Homo sapiens: one gene and its partner. The protein of the gene in region 1 purifies or fractionates together with the protein of each later gene. This does not show direct contact. Each region holds a gene or a part of one and is shown on either strand. Other genes may lie near its edges.

Region 1 (3,500 bases):
CAGGGGCCTGGGCCTCAGCCCTGTCACCCTCCCACTCCCCAGCTGGCCTGGGCCCGGGCCCAAAGCTGTCCTCTTCAGGCTGCGAGGTGGCCATGGGGGCTGGGGTAGGAGGTACCCAGGCATCACCTCCCTCCCCCAGGCCCTGAAGGCGGGAGATGCCCAGACGGCGCCCCAAAGCTCCAATCTCTGCTACAGCTGCCCCGTCCCCTCCACCACCAGGCAGTGCGAGCCGGGCGCTGTAGATGAAGTTGAGGACATCAGAAAACGCAGCTGCTGGGACTCCTGGCAACTCCAGGACCCGGGGTGGGGAAGAAGCAGGGGGAGAGGCTGGAGGGGGAGAGGAAGAGGAAGAGGAAGAAGAAGAAGAAGCAGAGGAGGAAGAAGAGGAAGAAGACGAGGAAGAGGAGGAGGAGGAAGAGGCAGCTGTGGTGGTGGCAGGGTTGGGTGCGGCGCCCCCAGTAGCTGGTGGAAGGGGTAGTGGGGCTGAAGTGAGCAGGGCCTCTCTGAAGAAGGGACTTGAAGCAGCCAGGACGCTGCGGTGAGCAGGGAACTTGGTGTCTCCGGCTATGAGGGTGACGTCACAGAAGAGGCCACGGAGCCGCTGTTCATTGAGCTGGCGCAGGACGGCGGGGGCATGGGACGGGTCCGTCACCTCTGCAGGGGGGGGCATGGTGCCAGCCTAGACAGTGGGAGAAGAGGCCGGGTAGAGTCTCAGAGGCTGGGCAGAGGGCAGGGGCTTCTAAAATCAGGCAGAGAGAGGATCAGGAGCTGCTGGTCAGAAACTAGTGGAAGGCTGAATCACTTCTGGTCACAGAAGTCAGGGGTTGGCCCTTAGCCACCCAAGTCTGGCCAGCATCCAAGACCAGTATGTCTAACTCACTTCTGAGGCTGGAAGAGGCCAGAGATACCTCAGGTCATGGTGAAGGTCAAGGGGTCATGACCTCTGAAGTCACAGACTAGAGATGTAAGTGAGGCAAATCTCTCTCATGGGAAGGAGGAGGAAGCTCCACAACTCCTGATAGCCATTTCACAGAACTCCCCAGCCTAGACAAAATGGCCGCCCCTGCTGGCCTGCTGCCTTGGGTCTACTTTGTCCTCACTGTAGGCCTCTGGGTACCTTCTCACCTGAGAGCACAGCCAACATGGAGTGGGGCGGGGGGTGGCTCAGCGAGTCCCTTCTGCTGGGCCTCTTCCTTCTGCGGAGAAACAGAAATTATGTCAGGGGAACCTAGAGGAGGAGCAGAAGAGGGTCCTCAAGGAGGGAAGTGAGAGGAAAAGCCCCCAGGAAGTGGGGAGGGGTGCAGTACTGTGGCCAGAGAGGACACCTGGGTGAGCCCAGACCCCTCCCCGGAGCCTCTGCCAGGTTATTTGTTTAGCTGTGTCCAGTCAAACCTGGGAGGTCACGCAGATTATTGCAGAGCCTTGTTCTGCGGGCCCAGAGAAGTACAGTGACAAGATAATTTGCATATTCCCAATTCACCTCCAAACAATATAGTAGCACAGGTCCAGTCCATAGGTTCAGGGAAGCCTGTCACAGCACTCTCAAGTCCCTTTGGCCCAATCTCCAGGGCTCAGAGGAAGTCAAAGATTTGCATGTTGTCATTTATCACAATGGTCTCATTTACATATCAAAATAATTTGTGAGTTTTTAAAAATTGGACCTAAGCTGGTAGATATTCAAATTAGGAGAGGACATCCTCACATCCTTCCAGCCCCATAAATCTTAGAAGGGGGTTTCTGGCGCAGCTGCCAGGCAACCATTGAAGACCACTGACCCATACACAACTGCCAGCTTGCTCCAGCCTCTGGAGGGCACTGGAAAGGCCACAAGACCAGGAGGCCTGGTCCCACGCCTTACTCAGAGACCTGATGCCCTAGGGATCTGGACTTAAAAAGCGGCAGAATCACAACTCCTACCTCACCTCTTGCTGGGAGACTCGTCCAGAGGGAAGAGCAAGGCCAGGCGCGGGGGCTCACGCCCGTAATCCCAGCAGTTTGGGAGGCCAAGAGGGGTGGATCACCTGAGGTCAGGAGTTCAAGACCAGCCTGACCAACATGGTGAAACCCACATCTCTACTAAAAATACAAAAAATTAGCCGGGCGTGGTGGCACGTGCCTGTAATCCCAGCTACTTGGGAGGCTGAGGCAGGAGAATCACTTGAACCTGGGAGCTGGAGGTTGCAGTGAGACGAGGTCACGCCACTGCACTCCAGCCTGGGCAACAAGAGCAAAACTCCGTCTCAAAAAAAAACCCCCCAAAAAACAAAGGGAAGAGCAGACAACTGAAACGCAAGCTCAGGCAGTCAGCAGCAGAGAAAGCACCGCGCAGCCACCTTCCCCTGCAGGCACCATCAGGGCCTTGAAGACTCTTTTCAGTTGAAGGTTTGAGTTCAAAAGCCAGACTTATCCAAAGTCACACAGCGCTGGTAATGACAGGCGGCACCTATTTAGAGATCCAGGCCCGCAGACTTGAGAGCAGAGCTCTCCGGACCCTCTCCTCTGCCCTCCACAAAGCCTGGGAGCTGTCACCCATCTTTGAGGGTGTCCTTCCGTATGCCGTGGGCCACGTGTCTTCAGAGGTGTCCGGCATCAGGAGTTCCTCATACAATTCCCATCCCCTGAAAAATCTTCTTTCCCATTTATCACTCATACTGTCTGGACTCAAAGGCCTTTTCCCCACATATACCCCATTTCACATCCCCCAAAATATTTTCCTGACACCTCTCCTGGATGGGAAGAAGGAAGATGGTAAACAGGGATGATATTCCAAAGTTTTAACAACCCTGTCTGCCAGGGACTGATGAGGTTCTGGGTCAAGTGTTGCCCTGTCAGTTGGTGAATTTCAGGTAGGTCGTAGGTCAGGCATCCTGCGGAAGGGGCCTCACTGCATTCACAGGCTGATGCCCAGGCCTCCTACTCGCCTCCATGAGAACCACTGGCTCACCGGGACCCCAAGAGTCAGTGTTTTATTTGGATTACCTCATTTGTTCCTTATCACTACCCTGAAAGGTAGCAGTTAGCTTTCCCTCCTTTTAAATTTTATTTATTTGTTTTGAGATGGAGTCTCGCTCTGCGCCCAGACTGGAATGCAGTGGTGCAATCTCAGCTCACTGCAACCCCCGCCTCCTAGGTTCAAGCGATTCTCCAGCCTCAGCTTCTTGAGTAGCTGGGATTACAGGCGTCCGCCGCCATGCCTGGCTAATTTTTTGTATTTTTAGTAGAGACAGGGTTTCACCGTGTTAGCCAGGGTAATCTTGATCTCCTGACCTTGTGACCTGCCTACCTAGGCCTCCCAAAGTGCTGGGATTATGGGCGTGAGCCTCCATGCCTGGCCACTTTCCCTCTTTAAGGCCGGGCACGGTGGCTCATGCCCGTAATCCCAGCACTTTGGGAGGCCAAGGCGGGCGGATCATCTGAGGTCAGGAGTTCTAGACCAGCCTGGCCAATGTGGCGATCTCTACTAAAAATAATAATAAAAAAAAAATTAGCCAGGCATGGTG
Region 2 (3,500 bases), on another chromosome or scaffold:
TCCAAACGAGACTGGGGCAGTGGAGGAGGATCAGGATGCATGTCCCATGGAGAAGGGGAACAGGCACATGCCGGGGGACCCGGCCACAGCAGCACACACACCTCGAAGCGCTCGTCCTCACAGCGGTGAAGCTGCTCCTCGTACGGTGTCTTCTTGGAGCTGACGAACGTGGAGTCCTCAGACCAGGAAGGGAAGGAGACCCAGGTGTCGTTCAGTACCTGCACCAAGAGGAAATGCCGTGAATGACGCTGCATGCCCCAGGAGCCAAGATTTACTGTTAGCCAGTGTAGAAAGTACCAAGATACATAATACCATCCTGATACATAATACCAACTGCCTTATACAAATGGGAAGGTGCATAAAGTTTTTAAGGAAAAACATGACTTTGGTCAAGTGGACACTCCCTTGGTATCCTGGGAGATTGGTTCCAGAACCACCCCTGAAGACCCAAATCCACAGATACTCAAGTCCCTGATGTCCAATGGAATCCTATTTGCATATATCCTATGCAAAATCATCTCTAGAATACTTATACCTAATGCAATGTAAATGCTGTGTAGATCATTGTTACACTGCATTCTTAAAATGTGGATTACGCTTTATTGCTGTATTGTCATTTTTTGGTTTCTCTTTCCCCACGTATTTTCAATCCATGGTTAGTTGAAACCACAGATGAGGAACTTGCAGATCCGGAGGGCCGATTTCATTTCAGACATTGGTAAATTCTCTCTGCAAAGGGTCAGACAGCAACCATCTCAGATTTTGCAGGCCATCCCAGATGAATACTCAACTCTGCCTTTGTGGTGAGAAAAGCAGCCACAGGCAATATGTAAAGGAATGGTTGTGTCTGTGTGACAGTAAAACTTTATTTACAAACACGGGCAGCGGGCCAGGGCCCGTGGGCCAGAGTTTGCTGACCCCTGCACTATATCCTGGAATCCAGCAGGTATTCTTGAACTTGGACATGCAGTAATCGTCTGTCCACGAACCCTGGAGAAGTGTCCAATGGTCAAGCTAAACAGAAACACACTGAGGTCAGTGAGCCCGGGACAGAGCAGAATCATGGCAGCAATAAACCTAAGTCAAATAACAGATGAATAAGCCGAACTCCACGTTATCCCTGGCACTCTGTGTTTTGCCAAAACTACCAGCAGGGTACAACACTGTTGTCTCTGCTCAGGTGGTTTTGCCGGGCCACATCCCAGCACCACCCATAACCCAACATTCAGGAGGGCTGAGCACACAGCATTTCATTCATAACGGGGGTATCGGGTGTTTGCTGGGGAGGGGTGGGGGATGCACCATGTCAACGAACATTTGAGCCCCAGGGAGCGCTACCTCCTTGCAGATGGCTGTCCTCCCACTGCACTTGGGCTGCTGGTAGGTTTTGGGGAGTGCCCGGTAGCTGGATCCTATGCGCTTGCAGGATGCATAATCAATTTCCCGGCTTATCCCGTCCCCGGATCTGTCGCTCATGGGTGGCGCGAAGGACAGCTCTTTTACCCCCAGGAAGGACTTGAACTGTGCAAAGAGTTCTGGAAATTTCCTTCAAAGATAAAGACACATGGTAACTGGTCATCCCCAGGGCCTTCTGAGAGGGATCTGGAGATTTTAGAATGGCTTCATGTGGACATTACAAGTTAAACAGAGTCAGAATTCAACATCATGGATGCGAATGAGAGGCGGAAGAATCCAATACACAGGAAGTCACTGCAAGTCCCGGGGTGTGTGAATGAATGGGCCTCCCACCCATCTGTCACACACCAGGTCCCTTCCTGTGCCTATTAATCCCATACTCACAGTAAGGCTTTGAAATACACCAGAAAAGATGACTTAAACTGGCAGAAGCTGGAACCCCTGATGTTCCCTGACTGGAAGAGGCCAGGCTTCAGGCCAGGGAGTGGCAAGCCACAGCCAGTCTGCACACTGCCTGTGTTTTGTTTGGTTTGGTATTTTCTTTTTAGAGATAGTGTCTTACTCTGTTGCCCAGGCTCAAGGGCAGTGGCATGATCTCAGCTTACTGCAACCTCAAACTCGTGGGCTCAAGAGATCCTCCCACCGCAGCCTCCTCAGTAGCTGGGACCACAGGCATGTGCCACCACACCCGGCTAAATTTTTTTTTTTTTTTTTTTTTGAGACAGAGTTTCACTCTTGTCGCCCAGGCTGGGGTGCAATGGCACAATCTCGGCTCACTTCAACCTCCACCTCCCGGGTTCAAGCAATTCTCCTGTCTCAGCTTTCTGAGTAGCTGGGACTACAGGCATGCACCACCATGCCCGGCTAATTTTTGTATGTTTAGTAGAGACGGGGTTTCCCCATGTTGGCCAGGCTGGTCTCAAACTCCTGACCTCCGGTGATTCACCCGCCTCGGCCTCCCAAAGTGCTGGGATTACAAGTGTGAGCCACCATGCAGGGCCAATTTAAAAATTTTTTTGTAGAGATGGGGTCTTGCTATGTTGCCCAAGCTGGTCTTGAACTCCTGGCCTCAAGTGATCCTTTCACCTCAACCTCCCAAAGTACTGGGGTGACAGGCGTGAGCCACCATGCCTAGCCATCCCATTGTAAATAAAGTTTCACTGGCCTGCAGTCACATCCACTTGTGTACGCACTGCCTGTGGCTGCCTGCACAAGAGGGGTTTGAGTCATTTCCACAAAGCCCATCTGGCCCCTCAGAGATCAAGTTTGCCTATCTCTGATCCACAGTCTTCCTCTCATGAGGGAGACTTCTCTCTGTGAACCCCTCTCTGGACACAAGCTTGAAAGTCATAATGTCATGGCTGTGGTCGACAACAGGAAGGCTTTAATGCAAATGACCCTACAATGCCACCTGGATTTCTGTTTAAAATAGTATCAGACCTGGTGGTGTGTACCTGGAATCCCAGCTACTCAGGAGGCCAAGGCGGGAAGATCACTTCAGCTCAAGAGTTTGAGACCAGCCTGGGCAACAGAGCAGGACCCCGTCTCTAAGCAGTAACATCAGATCCTACCAAAAAAGTTGCAGTTATGGCCAGGCGCAGTGGCTCATGCTTGTAATCCCAGAACTTTGGGAGGCCGAGGCGGGCGGATCACGAGGTCAGGAGATCGAGACCACGGTGAAACCCCGTCTCTACTAAAAATACAAAAAAAAAATTAGCTGGGCGTGGTGGCGGGCGCCTGTAGTCCCAGCTACTGGGAGAGGCTGAGGCAGGAGAATGGCGTGAACCCAGGAGGCAGAGGTTGCAGTGAGCCGAGATCACGCCACTGCACTCCAGCCTGGGCGACAGAGCGAGACTCCGTCTCAAAAAAAAAAAAAAAAAAAAAAGTTGCAGTTACTTTGACTGCTGGTGCCACAATCCTGCTGTGACCTAGCCACCCAGCCCACCCTCGCATAACGACGTCCCCCTCATTGATGTGGGCTCCGTCGTTCCCCGTATTTAAGAACCCTATGCCAACCCTGCTCACAAGGAAAACCCACAAGCCGATGGAAACGTAGGAAGGAAAGAGACCAACAAAAAAGCTGC

Evidence for each region.
Region 2: the proteins of ZBTB4 (region 1) and SIN3B purify together in Homo sapiens (affinity purification with western blotting, with the first as the bait; one study listed by BioGRID). This does not show direct contact.

Annotation. Positions count from the first base shown.
Region 1 is NC_000017.11:7,466,132-7,469,631, forward strand, and holds part of ZBTB4 (zinc finger and BTB domain-containing protein 4), read right to left. Parts: intron 1,197-3,500; 5' UTR 1,126-1,196; intron 680-1,125; 5' UTR 671-679; coding exon 1-670. UniProt on the Homo sapiens protein: Transcriptional repressor with bimodal DNA-binding specificity. Represses transcription in a methyl-CpG-dependent manner.
Region 2 is NC_000019.10:16,860,398-16,863,897, reverse strand, and holds part of SIN3B (paired amphipathic helix protein Sin3b), read right to left. Parts: intron 1,547-3,500; coding exon 1,339-1,546; intron 1,247-1,338; exon of another isoform or gene 1,015-1,246; coding exon of another isoform or gene 919-1,014; exon of another isoform or gene 255-918; coding exon of another isoform or gene 219-254; coding exon 102-218; intron 1-101.